Regions from separate parts of the Homo sapiens genome. Here region 1 is linked to region 2. Evidence: fine-mapped expression QTL. A gene starts in region 2. The other region holds a variant in brackets. All regions are shown on one strand. Distances are between the middles of the regions.

Region 1 (11,555 bases), 28 kb after region 2:
ATTGAGCTATTTGTGTTTATGTTCCAGGATTGTGCCAGTCTTGGCGTGCTAAGGTCTTAGGCGGTCCCGTCACGTCACTGGCCACGGGTTCTCTGAATCCACTTTAATCCTATTTTGTGTTGAAAGCAGGATTTTGGTAATGAGCCTGTGTTGACCCCTTTTCTCTGAAGCACGAAGTTCAGAGCTTTTAATTCCCTGCTTGTTTCCTGGCTCCCTGTCTTTGTCTCTCTCTGTCTCTGTGTCTCTGTCTCTGCCTCAGTCTTTCTCTTGCCTCTCAGTTCAAGGTATGTTACCATCCTTGCTTCACACAAAGTTACTTTCTTTCCCTCTCCTACCCTCTTTCTCTCTTCCTTCTTTCCTCTGTATCTGTTCCCTTCTTTCTTTCTTTTTTTTCTGAGATGGAGTCTCGTTCTGTCACCCAGGCTGGAGTGCAGTGGTGTGATCTCTGCTCACTGCAGCCTCCATCTCCCTGGTTCAAGCGATTCTCATGCCTGAGCCTCCTGAGTAGCTGGGATTATAGATGTGCACCACCACGCCCAGGTAATTTTTGGATTTTTAGTAGAGACGAGGTTTCACCATATTGGCTAGGCTGGTCTTGAACTCCTGACCTCAGGTGATCTGCCCGCCTCAGGCTCTCAAAGTGCTGGGATTACAGGCATGAGCCACCGTGTCTGGCCCTGTTTTCCTCTAACGAGTACCTGTTTATGTTCTCTTTCTCACTATGGGCCTCACTCTGTCATCCAGGCTGGAGTGCAGTGGTACGATCGTGGCTTGCTGCAGCCTCAACCTCCCGGGCTCAAGTGATCCTCCTACCTCAGCCTCCAGAGTAGGTGGGACCACAGATGTGTGCCATCACGCCCCCCGGGTAATTTTTAAATTTTTGTAGAGCTAGGGTCTCACTATGTTGCGCAGGCTGGTCTCGATTTCCTGGGCCCAAGAGATCCGCTCGCCTCGAATTCCCAAAGTGCTGAGATTACAGGCGTGAGCCCTGTACCTGGCCCAAGCATATATTTTTAATGAACATAGCTGATCGAGTTTCATCTCTGACTCTCTTCTTGGCTCACTCAGTGCTATACTTTCAGGATCCATCCATGTAGCTGCCTGCACCCCTGGCCTGGTGTTTCCCTTCAATCCCTTATTCACAATTTCATTTCCTTCCTTATTCACCTTCCTTCCCTTCCACCCAATCAAATGATGCCAAACACACATTTTGAAAAGATGTACATTGGGAAGGCTGCCTCCCTGCAAGAGCCCCTGGCCAAGGCCTCGTCTGTGGAGCGTGGCAGGGAGCGTGATTTTTAGAGCTCTTTCCAGCCATGGTTTTCTCCCTGATCGTGAGAGAGTAGCTGTGCCTCCCTTGGGCCTCTTTCTCTGTTTTTCTTCTTTTGTTAAAATAGAGACCATCTCTTTCTCTCCCAATTGGCAAGAATATTGCCAGAATTAATGACATGAGAGAAAGCTACTTGAACTTTAGATTCTGTGGATGGTACAATTTGTTTTTCATTACAAGCATATGTTTAGTGTTAAAATTTACTTCGTGTTATGATTGCAACATTATACTGGAGGAAAACCCCTTATGTGAAAGAGAGGTTGAATTGTGGGGAAATATTTCTTTAATCTATTGCTTTTGAATATTATTTTTTTGTAGTACATTTCTGCCAAATTCAGGACATAGATAAGTTAGCATTTTTCCTAGTTGAGAGATCCTTTTCCTGTTCTGACTTCTGAGTTTTGGCTGCGGGAAGTGGAAAGAACTTTCTTAAATTATGTCATCACTTTGGAGGGCTGGGGCGTTCTTAGGATCCCTCCACGAATGCTGTTATGAGCATGGTTCTTATGTGCTTTTAGGGGATTAAAATATTTTAAAGCAGAAAGCGGGATTTTTCCGATGCTTTTTGAGCTAGAGGAACTAGAAAATGTAAAAGCGTTCCACCTCTCAGCTCCTCTTTTGACCCTCTGAGACTGTCGGGAAGTGATGGCATGCTAGTGTCTGATTGTTTTAAAATCCCACTTTTGATAATACTTTATGTTTGTGGTTTGAATCTATCATTTGGCGAATTATTTTACTGATGCTGGGCGATTTGCTTGGCTTCTTTAAAACACTTCTCTTTTATTTGTTTTCTCTTATAACCTCCTTTGTTACTTGAGGAACAGACTTCGAATAAAATGGCATTTTCTTTCAAAAGAATTCTGAAGCCCTGGGGGATTCCATTGTATCGGATCAGTGATGGCTGTGCCCTAAGAATGATGTGTTACAAAAATCATATTTTTATCAAAATTTTTTTTAGTGTGTTGCAAAATGCCATATGTGACCAGGTGTGGTGGCTCATGCCCGTAGCCAGGAGTTCGAGACCAACCTGGCCAACACGGCAAAACCCCGTCTCTACAAAAAATAGAAAAATTAGCCGGGCATGGTGGCACACCTGTCATCCCAGCAACTCGGGAGGCTGAGGCAGGAGAATCGCTTGAACCCTGGAGGCGGAGGTTGCAGTGAGCCGAGATCATGTCACTGCACTCCAGCCTGGGCAACAGAGTGAGACTCTGTCTCAAAAAAAAAAACCCAAAACCAGCCATATTTAGCTACTAATTCCTTGCATCTTTCTGAATGTCTGCTCTTTTTTTTAAAAAAAAATTTTTTTTTACCTTTACTTTTAATCAGCTTGATGAATGTCTGCTCTTATCGTGAGAAAGTTGAGGAGTGCAGAGCTTACTCTCTTCTCTGAATTGCCTACTGTTTTGGGTACGTTATCTGTTTTCCTTTTGTAAAAGAATATGCATTGTTAAGGAACATTTATTCTTTCATTCAACCAGTATTTCTGGAGCCTCCGTCCTGGGCCCGCAAGAGGAAGAAGCAGTGTGTGTCTGTGCTGGAGGCCAGGCGGGAGTGCTTGAGTGGCTCTGGTTTGAGCTTCCGGAAATCTCAGGACCCCTGAAGGCAGATTGATAGGGCATTAGAACGGTTGTTTAACTCAGGACATTTTTCGTTTTATTTTTCTTCTTTTCGGTTCTATTTCTAGTTATTTCTTTATTATTGCTGCCTACCTTTATCTCTCATGAGTGGGGACAGTAAGTAGTTCCTGCTTTTGGATGTTGAAAAACATTTTTGAAAGCTACGGTAGAGTCTGTCCTGATTTTGTCTTCTGGGTGGGGATTGCTTCTGCCACCGTGCTGTGTGACGAAACGGACCTGATTGTCCCCCTGACTTCAAGTTCTCTTCTTGGTGAAATCTCTTCTGCACTCTTGACCTCCAGGGGCCAACGTGAATGCGGCAAAGCTTCATGAGACTGCCCTTCACCACGCGGCCAAGGTCAAGAATGTTGACCTCATCGAGATGCTTATCGAGTTTGGCGGCAACATCTACGCCCGGGACAACCGCGGGAAGAAGCCGTCTGACTACACGTGGAGCAGCAGCGCTCCCGCCAAGTGCTTCGAGTACTACGAAAGTGAGACACCCCACCGAGCGCACCCCATCCCCTCCAGCCTTCAGCCTGGACCCCTGACGTGCCGGCTCCCTGTGGGCTTCCGCGGAGAGCTGGGCTGTTAGTCCTGGCTCCTGTCCTCTGCGCTAGGACAGACCCTTAAGCACTTTGCGGGGGCTGTTTGTGCTGTTGCCCCAGCTCTCCCTGGGTTCCCTGTGGCCCGTGGCGTGGAGCAGCAGAAGCTGTGGCCGACACCTGCCCGGGCACCAGACCTGTGCCTCCTGTGCTGGACATTTGACAGATGAGCCTCCTAGCTGCAGATTAGTTGTTTGATGACAAGTTTGGGTGCTGAAATATAATGCCGTGTCTCAAAAAACCAAAACCATGGTTTTGAAAAGGCGCAGTGGCTCACACCTGTAATCACAGCACTTTGGGAGGCTGAGGCGGGCAGATCACCTGAGGTCAGGAGTTCGAAACCAGCCTGGCCAACTTGATGAAACCCCATCTCTACTAAAAATATAAAAATTAGGCGGGCATGGTGGTGGGTGCCTGTAATCCCAGCTACTCGGGAGGTTGAGGCAGGAGAATTGCTTGAATGCAGGAGGCGGAGGTTGCAGTGAGCTGAGATTGTGCCGCTGCACTCCAGCCTGGGTGACAGAGTAAGAGATTCTTGCCTCTGTCGCTTTTTTTCTGTCTCAAAAAACAAAAAACAAAAAACCTCAAAACCAAACAAACTCCCAAAGCCCACAAAAGGCAATCCCAGTGGACATCATGCCCCGAACTTCATTTCCTGGGCTCCCTTCCTCGGGTTCCTGGCTGTCCTTCCAGAGAAGGCCTACAGGACACATCCCGGTTCCAGGGGAAAGGGAGGCGTTTCCGATTCCCTCTGAGTTTGTGTTCCATTGCAGGTGTTGTGCTTCTTCCTGAAATTAACCTCACATCCTTCCTTGCTCCCTTTTTCAGAGACACCTCTGACTCTGTCACAGCTCTGCAGGGTGAACTTGAGGAAGGCCACTGGCGTCCGAGGGCTGGAGAAGATTGCCAAGTTAAACATCCCGCCCCGGCTCATTGATTACCTCTCCTACAACTGAATTGCAGGTGGGGTCCGGACCGTGGCTGCCCCCGTTGTGCCCAGCATTGCCCGGGTGAGGGCTCTGCCTGTTCCTCTGAAGCAGCGTGATTGCTGTAGATAGAACAACGCTCCTTCGAGTCCCTTCCTGCGATCCTGTTTAGGCTTCTCTCCTGGATCCTGGATAATGTTTCCAGGGTGTTGGGAAGGCCTGCGTCTCAGGTCACAGTTGTGGGTGTGGCCCTGCGCTGTTCTACAGAACCTACCCTCTCAATGGGCATGGGCCCAACCATCCAGTTTTCCTCTTTTACGGACCATCCTCAAAGGCACTCTCAGGACAGACGGCGTGGGGAGCACAGAGGAGGCTGGCAGAGCTGGGGACTGAGGGCATTGTTGCTGATTCTCACTCACCGGGGCAGCCTGCCGCAGATGCACAGGCCCCAGGTGCAGGCCACCACCTCCGGGTCGGCACCAGGACTGCCCTCGGTGCTCATAGGGAATGGCTGGGCCCACGGAAGGTCGGCCTGGGATGTGGCCTGGGACTGCTGCTCTGCTGGCTGCTGTGTGGATGCTTTTCCTGGAGCACTTTCCAAGGCATCCCCCAGCCCCAAGCCTGCGCGCATCTGTCACTCAGGGACTTTCTATGGGTCTTTGTGGGGGAAGGCCCTGGCTTTGTATTCCCCACAAGTAGCACTGAGTTTCTTAGGAAATTTGTCTTCAGTATTAGGTCTCCAACTCTTGTAAAAAGTTTATATGTAGGATAAAAACCTTTTAGAGGACACGTAGGCGGTACCACTAAGGTTTTGGTAATGAGCCATTCAAACCGACAGCAGTGTGAAGGTGTGTCAAGGTGTATATTCTCGTGGCTCGGCATTCTCAGTGCAAAGGCCTGTTTGGAGACTCTGTGGGAATTGTTTTTCATCTGTTTCTATGGTTGTCAAATGAATTCTTCACCCACCCTACAGTTTGCTAACTCCTTGAAGCTATCAAATTAGTAAGACCATCTATCACATCCAGCATTGTCCCAGTGCTTTGAGTTGGACGGGAATGGGACTCTGCAGCCAAGGCAGGATAAGAAAATCTTGCAATCCCGTCCTGCAGTGATAGAAACAGGTCGTTCTGCATTATAAGCCATAGGTGGAGCATTCGGTAGCGTATTCAGACTGCATGGGCCGGCCTAGGAGTCTTTGCCTTCATAAATTTTAAGAACCCCGCCCACAACAGGGAGTTAAACTGGAGGACTTTGCATGATTAGTTCAGGGATGAGTGGTTTCTGGGGCATCTGAGGTCAGGAGTTTGAAACCAGCCTGGCCAACTTGATGAAACCCCATCTCTACCCATTCTGGAGAACAGGTCACGCCTGTCCTGGAGACAGTGTGCCGGGAAAAGGGAACGTGGTACTCACTGGATGCACCCAGGCCGGCCCGAGCCTCCCACCGCAGACAGTGTGGAACAGAGTGAGCCTGAGCTGCCCAAGGCGATGCCCTTTGTGCTGTATGACTGGAGGCCTCTCCGCGTGGGTACTTGGGGGTGGGGCCACAAATCTGGCGAAAAACTTCATGCTGGCCGCCGTGAGGTTTTACTCCAGCGTTCCCGCCATTGTCATGGCGGGTCTTCGTCCTAAACTGAGAAGAAAAGCATTCCTGTTTGATCAC[C/T]GCCTTAGTTACCAGTTCTGGATCAGTCAGTGTTTCTGCATGGAATAACAACCATTAAAAAAAGCACTGGGTTCTGCCCTTTCATCTTTGTAAGAGATTCTTGCCTCTAGCAATGACAACCTGTGATGTCTCACAGTAGAGCACTTAGCGCAGAATCAGGTCCCCACGGCTGTTGCTCAATAAAAGTGGCGGAATAAAGTGCATCCCTGTGTTCACACGACTCTTTTCTTATGGGGCAGAAACACCAAGATGGGCGCATCCTGTGTGGATGGAGAGGGGTGGCTCTCGTCTTGCTGTGTCCCAGGTCGTTTGGCAGCGCTGTGCTTGCCAGGGAGCCACACTTTCCCATCTCTTCCCCAGGTCTCCTGATGCCAACTTCAGCACCCCCCTTATGTGGACTTTTCTTGGGGGAGACAGACGCTGTCCACGGGACCAGGTGACTGGGATTTTGGGTCCTCCCCTGCCCTTATGCAGGGCTGTGACTGCACACAGGTTTATCTGCTTCTCTACTCTGAGTTGTTCCGGAAAGCTGCAAAACCGAGATAATGGATCAGACTTGGAGCATTGAAGGGGTCTTGATGACCAACCACTGAGCCAAGCCCGTCACCTCAGGTGGACGAGATTGGGTCCCCAGCGTCAGGTTTTGTGTTTTTTTTTTTTTTTTTTGAGGTGGAGTCTCGCTCTGTCGCCCAGGCTGTAGTGCAGTGGCACGATCTCGGCTCACTGCAAGCTCCGTCTCCTGGGTTCACGCCATTCTCCTGCCTCAGCCTCCTGAGTAGCTAGGACTACAGGCACCCGCCACCACACCCGGCTAATTTTTTTTTTTGGTATTTTTAGTACAGACGAGGCTTCACCATGTTAGCAAGGATGGTCTCGATCTCCTGACCTCGTGATCCTCCTGCCTCGGCCTCCCAAAGTGCTGGGTTTACAGGTGTGAGCCACTGCGCCCGGCCGCCTCAGGTTTTTATGAGGCTGAAATTAAATGATTGAAAGATGCCTTGGCTGGGTGGGGTGGCTTATGTCTATAATCCTAGCACTTTGGGGAGCCAAGGTGGGCAGATCACTTGGGCCAGGAGTTTGAGACTAGCCTGGCCAAGATGTTGAAACCCTGTCTCTACTGAAAATACAAAAATAAGCCAGCTGTGGTGGTGTATGGTTGTAATCCCAGCTAGTCAGCAGGCCGAAGCAGGAGAATCGCTTGAACTTGGAAACGGAGGTTGCAGTGAGCCAAGATCGTGCCACTGCACTCCAGCCTGGGAGACAGAGTGAGACTCTGTCCCCACAAAAAAGAAAAAAAAAAGATGCCTTGAAAAGCCTAAAGTGGTCCCCAAATATGAAAGTTACATTGACTGTTGTGTGGTTTTGTTGATGTTTGTAGATCTTGCAGCTGTGTGAACTATTCCCGCCTTAAGATCATACCATCTATTTCAGGAGTCCTGCAGTCATAAGACTTCTCAGTTTACATTTTCAAATGCAGTGTGCAGTGGACAGATTTGGAGCAGATGTTTGCAACATATATAACAAGTAATTGGCAAGCAAAATATATAAAGATCTTATGATAGATCATTAAAATGGGCCAGGTGCTGTGGCTTATGCCTGTCATCCCAGCACTTTGGGAGGCTGAGGCTGGAGGATTGAGCTTAGGAGTTTGAGACAAGCTTGGGCAGCCTAAAGAGACCCCATTTCTACAAAAAAGAAAAGATAAACAACCCAATAGAAAAAAACTGGGCAAAGAATAAGAACAGGGCTTTATAAAAGAGGGATCTTGAAATGTCCACTCCCAGGAAAGGATGCTGAGAAGTGATCAGGGAAATTCAAATTAATATTTAATTCAACAAAGTGATTACCATTGAATGTCGCCATTGAGACAGTCATTGAAAGGTCTGAGTTTCACAGTGTGGATGGGTGGGCCATGTGGGCAAATGGAAATGCACAGGCTGCTAGTGGGGAATACATTGATGATAGGTCTGTTTTGGAGAGCTATTGGCTGATATTAATGCAATGAAAAATGTGCATACCCCTTGTCCCCAGTAATTCTACTTTATATAAATAATACCCTAAAGAAACTCTCAGGCAATATCACAAGGAGACATGTATGAGGTTGTTTACTGCAGCGATACCTGTAATAGTGAAAACCCCACCAGTTGGGAGTAAGATGTAGAATATCATATACATCTTACATGTCATACCTACACTCGATAAAAGTTAAGATGGATTAGAACTACACGTTTTAACACGAATAGATCTCAAAAATATAGTGGTCGATCAAACAATTGCCAGACTTTTCTGTGTATGGTATGAGTCAATTTGTATAATTTTTTTAAAAAGCCCATCTAATAATTCATACGTATGCAGTAAATACATAAAATCATGGAAACCACACACTGGCATCATGGGGATACCAGTGGCTTGGGGATAGGAACGCAGGGAACTTCACCTCTGTTGTATTGCATTTCTTAAAAAGTGATGTTGGCCAGGAAGAGTGGCTCACGCCTGTAATCCCAGCACTTTGGGAGGCTGAGGCGGGAGGATTGCTTGAGCTCAGAAGTTCGAGACCAGCCTCGGCAACATAGTGAGACCCTATCTCTAAAAAAAAAAAAAAAAAAAAAAAGATACGAAGCACATGATAGAATGCTACTATTTGCTCATGTTGGGGGGCAAATAGAAACATGGGGTTACTCTCCATGTGTTTTGATGTTTGATTTTTTCATAATAAAAATTGAATGCATAGAGGAACAACGAAGGGCAAAAAAACCAAAAAATTAGAAACTCGGTTGTGCTTACAAACACCTTTCAGATTCCTGTTGGCCACAACGGCATGGTTTTGGTTATAGGAGCTTGTATTCCACAGTGGGTGTTGACACTTTTTTTGGAACTACTCTCAGACAAACTAGGTATGCAAAGCCCTGTGTCCTGAGGTTTGTCTCACAGAGCCGACCCTCATCTCCTCTGTAGGAAAGTGCTGGGTAAAATGCCTCTCACTGATTGGCCTCGCTGCGCTGGTATGGCTCCCTCCCTGGACAATGGTGCGTCTTCTAGGTCTGGCTCTGGGCAAAGTCCCTGGTATCAAACCCTCCCCTTTGGAGAGGTCATAATTGAGGGGCCATTTCACAGTAAGAAAATGCAGCTGCACCCTCTGTCCCCAGCCCGTGGAGGCGGGGTGCTGCCCACCTTCTGCAGGTGGGAGGCGTCGTGAGGGAGACAGCAAGAGACCCCAGTGGGATCCCCAGTGGGATCTCTTGCTCAGCTCTGGGCTCCCCGTGGTCTTCCAGGGAGGGAGTGGAATCTCGTCTACTCCTGGACCATAGCAATGCTCCCTGTGGTATCCCATCTGTGCTACCAGGTGAGTCTGCAGAGAGCTCTGAAGTCATTTGGGATGAAAAGAATGCCTTTCCCTGTCCATTTCATGCCCTGGGCCACTTTGTTAAACTGCTTGTGCTTTCTCTCCAGTGGGCAACACCTGTTTCTTCTAGGCAGTTGAGTTCCTTTATTCGGAAAAACGAGCGTAAGACTGGCTCTGAGAACAAAGCTGGACAGCTTGCTCATCTTTCGAGCAGCTGTGCCGTGGAGAGATGAAGGTGGGGCGCACAGGGCCCTGGCAGGGGCTGTGCCCCCTGTAATGGCTGAGAAAATATTTCCAGACCCTGGAGTCTTTGCCTTTTCTCTTTTCTCCACATTAGCACCACATGACAGTGACAGCGAGGCCTCAGTGATTTTGGCTTGAAGGTCTTGTGATCTCCGACAAGTTGAATGAAAAGATGTCTTAAATTGGTCCAATCTAAAGAGTGCCTCCTTTTTCTCCAAACCATGAAAAAAGGCAGAAAAGATGGATGATAGGCCTCTCTGCCTGTCTCTGTCTCTCTCTCTCTCACGCACCTGTGTACACATTTATTCGTTCAAATACAATTTCACTCTAGCATCTGGCCTCCAGGTGTGCGGTTGTTGTGCACACGGACTTCATGGCTGGGGAGAATCTGCCACTGGACGCTGAGCCAGGATGTGCACTTAGCTTCACCATCTGCACTCTGAGTGATCAACAAAGAAAAGTCCCTCCGTTCTTGGTGTGAATCCAAATCCCGAAGCTTGTTCCACTGTGCTGGGGACAGAGGGTAAGACCAGAGGAGAAGCAGGGACATCCTCTTGCTCCTTGGTCCTCTTCCCCATCTTCCCCATCCAAGCCCACCCATCTTCTTCTTTCCTTTTTTTACCAGTTGTTCTATTTTAAGTTCTCTGCTGGGCACTAATGATATGAGAACACATAAAAGCAAATCTTGGCCCCGAGCATCTCAGAGTCTGTTTTTCAGGGAGCAGGTATAGGAACAGATGTTGCACCTCATCATGTGGTGAGCTGGGGGATGCTGTGGTCTGAATGTCTGTCTCTCCCCAGATTCCTGTGTTCAAATCCCCACCCCCACAGTGATGGTATTAGGATGTGGAGCCTCTGGGTGCTGATTAGCTATGAGGGCAGAGCTCTCTTGAAAGGGACCAGTGCCCTTAGAAAAGAGGTGCCAGGCCTGGTGCACTGGCTCACACCTGTAATCCCAGCACTTTGGGAGGCCAGGGTGGGCTGATCACTTGATGTCAGGAGTTTGAGACCAGCCTGACCAATATGGTGAGACTCCGTCTGTAGTAAAAATACACAATTAGCCAAGCATGGTGGCGGGCGCCTGTAATCCCAGCTACTTGGGAGACTGAGGCAGGAAAATCGCTTGAAGCTGGGAGGCAGAGGTTGTAGTAAGCCGAGATCGTGCCACTGCACTCCAGCCTGCACAATAAGAGTGAAACTCTGTGTCAAAAATAAAAATAGGTGCCAGAGAGCTGCCTTGCCCCTTCAGGCAGATGAGGACACAGAAAGAAGTCGCTGTCTATGGAGAAGAGAGCAGTCATCACCAGGCAGGGATCCTGGACTTCTCAGCCTCTAGAACTTTGAGAAATAGATTTCTGTTGTTTAAAAACCACCAGTGTTTAGGTTTTGTTTGCTTTTATTTGAGCCGGGGTCTTGCTCTGTTGCGCAGGCTGGAGTGCAGTGGCATGATCTCAATCTCCTAGGCTGAAGTGATCCTCCCACGTCAGCCTCCTGAGTAGCTGAGGCTACAGACGTGTGCCACCACATCTGTCTAATTTTTTAACTTTTGTAGAGACAAGTTCTCATTATGTTGCCCAGGCTGGTCTTAGGCTCAAGGATTCCTCCCTCCTCAGCCTCCTGAAGTGTTGAGATTACAGGCATGAGCCACTGTGCCCAGCCATATAGAATTTGTTTTAGCAGCCTCAGCAGACCAGGACAAGGCATGAGCAAACTTGACTCTTAACTCTGCCAAGGACACTGGAGAAGACAGAAGAGGGATGACTGCTGACCTTCTAAAGTCTTGGATTAATAAAGTCAATTACATAGCATAAAGAACAACTTCATTT
Region 2 (11,555 bases):
CAGAACTGAAAAAGAAAAACACAAATTCAGATTCACAGTTGGAAACTGGCCTCAGTCTCTCAGGAAATTATAGAAGAATATAGAAAATCAGAAGGGTAGAGAAGACTTGAGTAACGTTGTCAAACAATTTGCCCTGACTAAAATTTATAGACAGTTCACCTGACTGCCAAATATATGTTCTATTAGTGTGTATAGGGAACATTCAGTAAGATAGACCATATGCTGCACTATAATATAAATCTTAATAAACTTAAAAGGATTGAAATACTATAGAGTATATTATGTATAGATTCTGTATTAAATTAGAACTCAATGACAAGATGATATCTGGAAAATTTCCAAATACTTGGAAATTAGAACACACATGTCTATATAAGCCACAGATCCAAGAAGAGATCATAAGAAATGTTAGAAAATGTTTTATACCGAATGAAAATGAAATCATAACATTGAACTTGTGGGATGCAGCTAAAGCAGTGATTAGAGGGAAATTTATGCCTTTGTCCACTTTATCAATGCCCAACCTCACTGGCATGACTAACTAGCAGGAAAGCTGATGTTCTTCACCCTGGAGCCAAACACACACCTAAGACTTTGAGAAGCTGAAAATAGGGAGCCAGTGACAGCCAATGGCTGCTTATATTAGAAAACGAAAAAACGTTTGAAATGAGGTATATGTTGCCTTGAAAATCCAAGGAAGCCTGTTTGGTGCCATGTTTCTTTCTTAGTGGCTGGAGGGGTCAGATGCAGCCCCTTCCCTTTACTTTGGGAGGTGTATCTTGACATGCCCCAGATCAATAGAAATTTGAATTTCTGTCCCACCCTCTGGCATGCATGCGTCTTACTGAAATGCTGACAGTAGACACTAATTCCTGCTCATCAGATCCAATCAGCTTGGTATCATCAAAACACTCGATGGGAGTCATAGCCTGGTGAATGGAGAGGCAGCCAAGATTTCTGCAGATCAGATTATGACATAAAATCAGAAGGTTGATAAAGTTCTGAGGTGAGAGAGTGATGGTGAATTGCTGCCCCAGCCAGCTGGAAGCAAACTGTTCCTCATGGTCTTCACTAACCACGTGTAACCACGTAGCCAGAGAACGCATTCATCAGACCAATAGCTGAATACCAGCAATGAAACCGTTTCTGAAACAGCAGCTTCACCTCTGATGAAGTTTATAATAATCCACTGTCATTCTCCCAGAAACTGCCTGTCTTCTGCACAGGCAAAATTATGTAATTTGAATGGAAATGGGGTGGGTGGGAGCAGGGGGAGTCACCATCCTGCATCTTTCATGCTTTTTTTTTTGTTTTTTTGTTTTTGTTTTTTGTTTTTTTATTTTTGAGACAGAGTCTCACTCTGTCGCCAGGCTGGAGTGTAGTGGCGTGATCTCGGTTCACTGCAACCTCTACCTCCTGGGTTCAAGCGATTGTCCTGCCTCAGCCTCCCGAGTAGCTGGGACTACAGGCTTGCGGCACCACGCCCAGCTAATTTTTGTAGTTTTAGTAGAGACGGGGTTTTACCATGTTGGCAAGGATGGTCTTGATCTCTTGACCTCGTGATCCGTCTGCCTCAGCCTCCCAAAGTGCTGGGATTACAGGCACGGTGGTTCATGTTCTTGATGGTAGCACTAAACTCTGCAATTCCTCCAGCAATGTGAAATGCCTTTTTCCTATGTTGGTAGATAGAGGCAGTTTCAGTGCCTTCTGCTTGGCTCAGAGAATCCATGTAGGGACTCTGCCAGTTTCTAGTAGATATATTCAAATGATGCATTCTGGAACTGAAGAAATAACTACAGGATTCAAGAACCCACTGGCTTATCTGAGACGAACCTATGCCCAAACTCGACTGATCATTTTTTCTATCAACTAGTATTCTAGCTGATAGACATAGTGGTATTTTAGCTCTCCAGGAATTAGTGTCAGTTCAGAGCCATTGACCCGCAATTGCTGAGTAGTCGTTATTTCCCTTTCTTCAGTGCATAGTCAATATACAACCTAGTAAATATCCATGAGATTCTTTGGGAAGGTCAGGAGGACGAGTTACAGTACAAACTCTGTGGCTCAGAGTTCAGGTGTACCTGGACCCACTTTCATTCAAGGAGCTCTGGGTCTGTGAACTGGCTCAACTCTAGGAATTGGTTGGGAGGCTGAAACTCCCTATTAAAATGATTTTTCTTTACTGCTCTTCGCCAGACCTAGAGCTTTCCTGCTTGTAAAAATCAAGTAAGGCTTCAGTAGGCTGCCATGTGTTTCAGCTCTAGGGATGCTGTCACTGACTAATCATTGCCCAAGATCTCTGAGGACAGACCATCTGGATGACTGTGCCAGTTCTGCTGCCCATGATGGCAGCTGGTCCCACACTGGCTTTGGCAATTAAGTGCCACCACTCAGTCATCAGATTCTATCATTCCCAGTGAATTCAGCGAGTAAAGCTTAATGACAGCAACTTCCCCACCATCATTACCGACCTAGACTCCCCAAGGATTAAGAAGCCCCCACCCCCGACCCCCACCGTCCTGACAAATGGACTTCTCAGTCTTGTGAGGGGGTTTTCTTCAGATTCTGAGAGCCAGAGTTAGGCGATGGGTGGACAGGTTTTACATGAAAAATCTACTCCAGCATTCTAAGCCTTTAGGAGACATTTTTCCAAAGTGTACTGAGAAAGTTCTGGCATTTCACCTGTAGAAACATGCCTAGCCATTTGAACAAGCAAACTGACTTTAGAATTGTGATGTGGTAAACCTGATTAAAAATTTTGGCCTGATCCAACATTATTTTCCTTCCAATCTAATCCAGTATCCCTTTGATCCATTCCTATATAAGTTCTACAGATTTCTGCCAATGTCACTTGGCAAAAATCTTGCAACTTTTATGGTGCGTGTTGTGCCTTATTAGGCCTCAAACCCCTCTGAACCTTACTTACCTTTCAGGGCCGGGCAGGCCGAGTCTGGGTTACAGGTCTAGAAGCAGTGACAGGTGAGGTGGGGGGTAGATCCTGAGGAGGATCCCCAGCTCTTTGCAAATCAGCTTCCACTGGTGAGGCCATCATAGATTCATCAGGCAAGATTAACCCTCTGAGTAAGCACAGGTGGATTCCTTCTACTGGCCAAAGAAGGCTCAGCAGAATTCAGGGGTTTAAGGTCTTCAGCTTCATGAAAATCTGCCCATTTGCTCCCATTCCATTCTTCAGCATCCCACTCCTTTCCAATTAGTTCTCTACCTTTACCATGAGAGACTCTGCAGAGTTGAGAATAGAATCTGCATTGTTTCAGTCACCTGCAAGCTTATACTTTGAGTTTAGCTTTCAGAAATCTTGGCTGTGTGGCTACGAGAGATAAGGGTTTCTTGCAGGGTGGCCATATAAGATTTCTGGTCCCTGGCCTGGTCTTTGAGCTGGAGAAAACCCTAAACTGATGACTTTGTTTTCCTTAAATCCAATCAGATCAGGATTTCTTGTGCCAGCCAAGATGGTGACAGCCCATTACAGTCTCTGTCTGCCACAGCTACAAATAAAAACCAGACAAGCTACCAAAAACAACTTCCTAAGGGCTTTGTTTTTTTTTTTTTAATTTTTTTTAGAGATGGGGGACTCACTTTGTTGTCCAGGCTGGTCTCAAACTCCTGGGTTTAAGCGATTTTCACAAGTAGCTGGGATTACAGGTGTGTGCCACTGCACCCAGCAACTTCCTAAGGACTCGGAAAAGTTAACAATGGCAGGAAGATTGGAGAGAGGAACCAAAACTTGAAGAACCCTATATATTTTTCAATACTCTTATATTTAGGAATAGAATCAGTCAATATAAATTGTAAATGAAATGCTTCTTCACAGCCTTTGGAGGATGGGTTATACCAGTGATTGCCAAACTTGCAGCAATAGTTAAAAAAAATTATAGGGCTGCCTCCCCGTCTCTCCCTGGAGCCCAGAATCTCCAGGAGAAACCCAGAAATATACATGTTTAACAAAACCTTGATTTCTCGAGTTAGTAAATTTAGGAAAAATGGCTTATCCAAGCAAATAGAATTGGATTTCCTAAAAATTTAGTCCTCACCCAAGCTATTTATTTTGGAGGCAAAAGAAGAGTATCTTATGACCTAGAAGACTCTAAAAATGTGGTATGAAGACTGTCTTTATTAGAAAAACCAGGGGTTAACACATCTCATTTAACAATGTGTAGGGGGTCCCCAACTACACCACTTTCCAAATAGCGGTCTTATCAGATTTTAAAATGCTGATACAAAAGTTATGATCTTATAAAATGACATTTACTTCCAACATGGTGAAACCCCATCTTTACTAAAAATATTTTAAAAACCAGCTGGGTGTGGTGGTGGGCACCTGTAATCCCAGCTACTCTGGAGGCTGAGGCCAGAGAATTGCTTGAACCCAGGAGACGGAGATGGCAGTGAGACAACACGGTGCCACTGCACTCTAGCCTCGGGGACAGAGTGAGACTCCGTCTCAAAAAACAACAACAACAAAAAACCACATGTGGTAGTTAGTTTAAAAATCACAGACCTTAGGCTAGGTAATCAGCAAATATTTGCTAAATGAGTAATAGAAACTTTGTCAATATCATAGAGGTTCTTACAATAGATTCAAAAGGTAATTGGAACCAACATGCAATAAAAAGAGATTAACACAAAAATAGATAAGTGGATTACTATTTAATGAATATTTTTGGAAAAACTCTATTTCAGTTTAGAAAAGAATGAACTGAGCTCCTATATTTTCATTCTACACATTGCAGTGAATTCCAGATGGGACTCAAAGACTTAGCAACAACAACAGAACAGAACAGAATAATTTATATTTTCTGGCTCTTGCTGGGGAAATACATTCTAAATATTGAAGAAAAAGGAAATACTTTCAGGGAATGCATTTCTGAATATATATGTAAACTTTGCAAAGCTTTTTCTGTAATGAAATCTTTTAATATTTTGGTCAAGCAACAGAATGGAGGAAAAACAAATAATAAGCAAATACTTGCTTATTAATATGTTTAGGAAACACTTGGATAACACACATACACATATGAATATATACACACACACATATATATATATGTTCTACATGATCATACTAAAATTTAGATGACACTTCGTCCAGGAAGAAATATTGAAGAAAATGCAATCATACAAACACGACATTGCCACAGGGGAAAACATAACATCCATGGTAAATATAACGATACAAAAATCTGTTACATTTAGTAAAAAGTGCAGAAAACCGGCAAGAAAAATGCAGGAGCCTGATTTTGGTAGAAAGTGGCAAAAAGGCTCTAAATGCCCAGTGCAAATGGCTTGAAATTCCATTCCCAGGCCTGGGGCTCCACATTTCCAGGGGCTCTGCTTTCCAAAAGATATGGTTCAATGTCCCCTAGGTATAGTGCCTTCGGTCTGGACTGCAGATGGAGACCTGGGTCATCCCAGAAGCTTTGTAGTGTGAGAGATCAAACTGGCTGCTCTGCCAGGCCTCACCTATTTCCAGACTGGATGATTCCTGATACTTTTACTTTTGAGCCCAAACTAACTTCTGCATGGAGGTTCAGTACAGGTCAGGTGAGTGACGAATCTCCTGACAGGGCTACAGTGAACTTTCACAAGGTTAAACCTTCTAAACTTGGGAAGCTGCTTTGCAAAAATAAATAAATAAAATAAAAATCCCTTACTCAATTGTTGACTGGGTATTATTCCGGAAACAGGAAACAGGTTTTTCATTTCTGCCAGGTTGTGCCCCAGCTTCCATTTGCTAAGCAGCTTAGGGGAACATTGGATTAAAAACCACCCGTAAAGAAAAGGCATTAAGAAATTGATTTGAACGATTTGAAATTATTATCTTGAAAGATCAAAGAAACAGTGATTATGAACACCGGCTCTGGTGGGAAGCGGTTCTTGAAAGTTAAAGCATGGGGGAACTCGAGTACTCTGGAGCATCATCAGCATCTGTACAATGCAAGTGAACTCTGGAAGCTAGACGCATGCTTTGCACGTGGACACAGACACATGCTTGCACAGGACACATTTGCAATACATACATGTTTATACATGGACACATGTTTTGCACACGCTTGCACAGGACACGCTTGCACAGGACACATGCACAGGATGCATGTTTTGTACAGGACACATGTTTTGCACATGGAAACACATATCCATGCTTTGCAAAGGGACACAGGGAAGCATGCTTACAATGGATACAAGTTTACACACGGACGCATGTTTTGCACAGGACATATGCACAGGATGCATGTTTTGCACACGGACACACACGTTTACATAGGACAAGTGCACAGGACACGTTTTGCACCGGACGTATTCTGTGCACGGGACGCACGGTTTGCAGATGCAAGCACACACACTCCTCGGCGCGACGGGCGAAGCGGGGTGGGCAGCGACAGCGGAGTCCGGACCCAGGGACAGCGCCTCCGGGAACCTCGCCAAGGCGGCGGGAACTACAACTCCCGGCTCGGTCGCCTCGGGACGACGCGCGGCCCAGCGCAGACTGGCCCCGCCCAGCGGCCCCGCGCGGCCCGGCCCAGGTCCCGGCGCCCAGAGTCGCCGCGCGGCCGCCGGTGAGCCGCATGGAGCCCCGGGCGGCGGACGGCTGCTTCCTGGGCGACGTGGGTACGTGCGGGCGCCGCGGAGGTCAGAGCGAGGCAGCGGCGCCGGCTCCTGAGGCCGGCCGCGTATCCGATGGCCTGCGCCGGGGAGGTGGTGGCGCGCCCCGCGCTGGCTCCGTGGGCGGGGGCGTTTGGCGGGGTGGGCCGCGGTGAAAGCAGGGTCCCAGTGGTGCCGCGCATCCCAGACGGGCTCTCATGTCTGGTGCCTTGTCCCAGGCCAGCGCACTGCGGGGTTGCAGTCCGTGCGGCTCGCCAGGTGTGGGGTTTCGCAACCGCAAACCCACCGAGCGCCGCGCGCCCTGGGGAAGGTGCGGGACGCGTGCGGGGCCGTTGCCCAGTGGCGGGGGAGAGCCTGGGAAACGCCCACGGTGCTCCCTCTCGGGGAAGCCAGGCGCGAGCCCACGGTAAGAGCTAAACCCCCCTCCACTGGCGCGGGTGAGGCCGTGGCGCAGTGTCCGAGCATCCTGCAGAGGCGTCCGCGTGACCCCGACTCCGCTCCAGTGAAGGTGGCCTTGGGGCACCCCGGCACACTCCGAAAAGTGCCATCCCAGTTCGCAGCCTACTTTACCAAAATCCGAGCAGCCCAAGAATGAAATGGATTTGAGGGAAGGACACTCTTTGGGGAAGCAAATTTTTTTGCTGCCTATGAAGCAATAATATGGTCACTGAAATGAGCGACGGAAGCACTATGAAAGCCTAAAAAGAAAAAAAAAATCTAAAGCATATTCATCCTGGTAAAAACAGTAGTGCACCTAAGAGGGAAAAGTCTTAAGGGTAAATTTAGCTGAAGAGGAAGTTGCAGTCATAGCAAGGCAAAGATATTTTAATTGACTTTGCAAAATAACCACCTTTGACATGATCAAAGGTATCTAATAAGCATGTGTTTTTACTTGGCATTCCAGTCCAGGCAAGCACAAGACTTTGACCCTGACACTGTGATCTGCATTTGATTAGCTTAATTGAGTAAGCAGTGAATAGCTAACGGCAGAAGCTTATTTAAACACATATTTTAATATTTCTGTTCATGGCATCACTTCTGAGCATGTCTTCTGCATCGTTTGTTATGGAATGCATCTGTAGAAGAAAGGCACATTTTAAACTAATGAATCCGCAACTTTTGAGGTTCACTGGTATTTTTGACATTGTCATTTTTTATTTAATATATTTCTCCCCAAATAAGTTCTGCTGATGTTTTTTATTCCCAGTGTAATGAATAAGCTGAATGTGTTGGATCCAAAACAATACTGCCATTCCAGCAGCACCAGAGGCGAACCGTAGGAGCTTTAGACAATTTTAACATTCTGACCTCAAATTCTGGATGTGTGGTGTACCGCGACCAAAACATTTAGGTTTTGGGCTGTTGCGCAGTCTCTCATGCCTGTAATGCCAGCACTTTGGGAGGCCGAGGCAGGTGGATCACTTGAAGTCAGGAGTTCGAGACCAGCCTGGCCAACATGGCGAAACCCCGTCTCTACTAAAAATACAAAAATTAGCCGAGCATTGTGGCGGGTGCCTGTAGTTCCAGCTACTTGGGAGACTGAGGCAGAAGAATCACTCGAACCTGGAAGGCAGAGGTTGCAGTAAGCCGAGATTGGGCCATTGCACTCCAGCCTGGGTGACAAGAGCAAAACTCTGTCTCAAAATAAATAAATAAAAATACAAAAATTAGCCAAGCATAGTGGCGGGCACCTGTAATCTCAGCTACTGGGGAGGCTGAGGCAGGAGAATCACTTGAACCTGATAGGCAGAGGTTGTAGTGAGCTGAGATCATGCCATTGCACTCCAGCCTGGGCGACAGAGTGAGACTCCGTCTCAAAAATAAATAAAATAAATAAATAAAGAAATAAAGAAATTCTGCATTCCCTATGGACGTCCTTCTGTGGTAGATGAACCTCTAACCTACTGGCTGCTCCCCCACTCCCCCGTACGTTCCCCCCAGGGTCCTCCAGTAGAATTGTTTTTGTTTAAATCAGATTTCAGTGTTGACATTATTGTGACTGTGAATATTGCAGCTGAGCCACTTGCTATGTGGGGACTATGTTTCTCTTTTTGTGTAATGTCTTGCTTTTCTTGGACATGGCGGGTGTTCTTTTTGTTTACCTGTGGGTTCGGTGTTCTCCATGCCTAATCCCTAATTTATCCCCAGACAGTCTTCTTAGGCCCCTCAGGTAAGCAATGAGTCCTGTGTTCTCTCTCTCCTGGTTCAGTGTTTGGAGACGTGTGCCCTGCAGCCTTGGGTCTTCCAGCTCTGCCTGCTGCTGCTCTGGGAAGCCGGGGTGGGGGTGGGGCAGGGGTGTCTTCCTGTTGTTTATGGGGATTTGCGCATCCCTTTGCGTTCAGTGCCCTCCCAGGGGTAGTTCAGATTCCCTGCTCTTTGCTGGTCCCAACCCCGGGTGCCAAGCCCGCCTTCTGTATCCTGGTTAGCCACTGCACCAGCCTGCTCTCCAGCTCCCCCGATGGTCTGGAAATCACTCCCCAGCCTGTTTGTTTTCTACTTGTTTATATGGATTTATGTCTCCCCATCCAGGTACTCTCAGTTGAGTGAGATCTTTGCTGAGGGGCAGAGAAGATCCTCCGTGTTTAATCAGAAACACAGCTCTATCGCTCTTGATTTCAGTGTCAGAGCGGGGAGAGGGAGAATCCACTAGGGTAGCAGTCCAGGGCATTTCTAAAGGGTAGAGAGTTACTTGGAGTGGGCGGCTATTTTATCCTAAAATAGGAATTCAAAGAGGGCCTGTTGACACACCAGAAAAGCCTATTTAGGGCCAATGGAAGTATCAGAGGAAATTAGCAAGTTACAAAGGCTTAGGAAGCATGTTTATGGGCAAAACAGTACCTCTATCCTCCTCCTCGACTCGGCAGCCCTGGGAGACATTGCCTGCTGTCCTAAGGAAACTGAGGCTTAGGTGATTTAGGGTGAAAAGCGTCCCTCAGGTCCCTTAACTGAGACAGGGAGGATGCAGGATCAGAGCTCAGGGGTCCTGAGTCAGGGCCTGAGCTCCCACAGTGCCTTGAGGGTGGGACTGGGGGACCCTCCCCATGCTCCCTGGGCCATAGCCTTTGGGGTGGACCAGGGGCAAGGGAGGAGTCGGGGTAGCAGATAATTGGGTGAGTGATGAGGGAGTCAGGGGAGGAGACATTGAAGGATAATGCAGCGAATCCAGTGTGGTTTTAGCGTCCTGCAGGTGGAAGGAAATGCCTGTTATTCACCAAGCTCTCCTGACACCTTCGGTCCTTTCTCCCAGTTCCTTTACTCCTTAGCCCACCTATTTTCACCTCTTTTCTCCTTGTCTTCTGCTTTCATTTATTCTTTCCCTTTCTTTTCTCCACTCTTACTGAGTTTTGACCATTTTGTCCCTCTAAGAAGGCAAATACTGGCATTTTTGCTTCATTGAACACATCTTAAAATCAGTCTGCTGTTTGACCTCAAGTTTACCGACAAACTATATTTTGGGGATTCATAATGAAAACATTTAAAAAGACATGGTTGAAAAATATCACTGTAGCAACAAAACACTGAGCCCAGACTTGTAAGTGGGAGTTTCTACATAGAAAAATAAAGATCCATATTTTTTTTCCTTGGGTTTCAAGGACACTAAAACTGAAATTTGAGCTGCGCTATTAAAATTTGGTGATAGTGGTTAAGTGCCATGCGTTAGGCACCCTCTTTGTGCTGGGGTTGTCACGTACACTGTCTTTAGTTGTCACCATGAGATCCTTCATTTATCTTTTCCTCTGTGGTCTCTTTGTCTTTGTGGATTTAGCCCCCATTTTATTCCCTTACCGTCACTTGTGTGTGGTTTGGACAGCAGGCAGAGATGAATGGATGCTACATTTGGCTTTTTCTGGGAGTGTTAATCATCCAGGATCTCATCTCTTCTCTTCTCTTCTCTTCTCTTCTCTTCTCTTCTCTTCTCTTCTCTTCTCTTCTCTTCTCTTCTCTTCTCCCCTCCCCTCCCCTCCCCTCCCCTCCCCCCCCCTTCTCGACAGAGTCTCAGTCTGTCGCCCAGGCTGGAGTGCAGTGGCACGATCTCAGCTCACTGCAGTCTCCACTGCTTGGTTCAAGCGATTCTCCTGTCTCAGCCTCCTGAGTAGCTGGGATTATTACTGGGATTACAGGTGCATGCCACCACACCCAGCTAATTTTTGTATTTTTAGTAGAGATGGGGTTTTGCCATGTTGGCCAGGCTGATCTCGAACTCTTGACCTCAGGTGATCCGCCTGCCTCAGCCTCCCGAAGTGCTGGGATTACAGGCGTGAGCCACTGCGCCCAGCCCATCGTCCAGCATTTCTAAGGCCTTTTCAGTTCTGACAGTCAGCGCGTGTTCATGAATCCTTAGCTTTCTGGGACCCTGGGGGGCTATGTCACTCAGGACTCTTGACTTTTCCCTGAGAGCTGAGGATGAGCCCATTGAGAGCAGCATCAGAAAACCCTCCCTGGGGGCTTCCGGTGCCTGCCTTGGTTCTTCCAGGGTGGGTTCCCCAAGTGTGTGCTCGCCCGCCCCAGCCCGGCTTTATGGGTGGGTCAGGGTGGAGGGCCCACCCTCACCATTTCAAGAATGCTTACTGGGGTTTTGCAGGGAGGGCTTCTTACAGAGGCTGCTGGTTGTTTTTGACGCAGAAATGACATTTCTGCAGCCAGGACCCCAGACTCCCCTTGGTGATTTACTCGGAACAAAATTTCTGACTCCAGCAACATTTAAGAGTGCATTCTGGGCTGGGCCTGGGGCTCATGCCTGTAATCCCAGCACTTAGGGAGGCCAAGGCGGGAGGATCACTTGAACCCAGGAGTTTGAGACCAGCCTGGGCAACATGGTGAAACCCTGTCTCTACAGAAAATACAAAAATTATCCAGTGTGGTGGTGGTGCATGGGCCTGTAGTCCCAGCTACTTGGGAGGCTGAGGTGGGAGGATCACTTGAACCTAGGAGGT

What was found.
Region 1: its variant is fine-mapped to the expression of ASB13 in whole blood (TOPMed, PIP above 0.99). The same link has a PIP of 0.9 or more in tibial artery.

Annotation. Positions count from the first base shown.
Region 1 is chr10:5,633,658-5,645,212 of GRCh38, reverse strand. It overlaps ASB13 (ankyrin repeat and SOCS box containing 13), which reads left to right. Exons shown (of 6, transcript NM_024701.4): 5 at 3,252-3,443; 6 at 4,383-6,346. The coding sequence ends at 4,510. Among named protein-coding and RNA genes, the nearest start is that of LINC02677, 21 kb to the right of the region's middle. The variant C/T (reference allele first, on the strand shown) is at 6,144.
Region 2 is chr10:5,661,581-5,673,135 of GRCh38, reverse strand. It overlaps ASB13 (ankyrin repeat and SOCS box containing 13), which reads left to right and starts at 6,541. Exons shown (of 6, transcript NM_024701.4): 1 at 6,541-6,627. The coding sequence starts at 6,585. RefSeq lists silencers at 6,538-6,607, 6,908-6,957 and an enhancer at 11,392-11,555.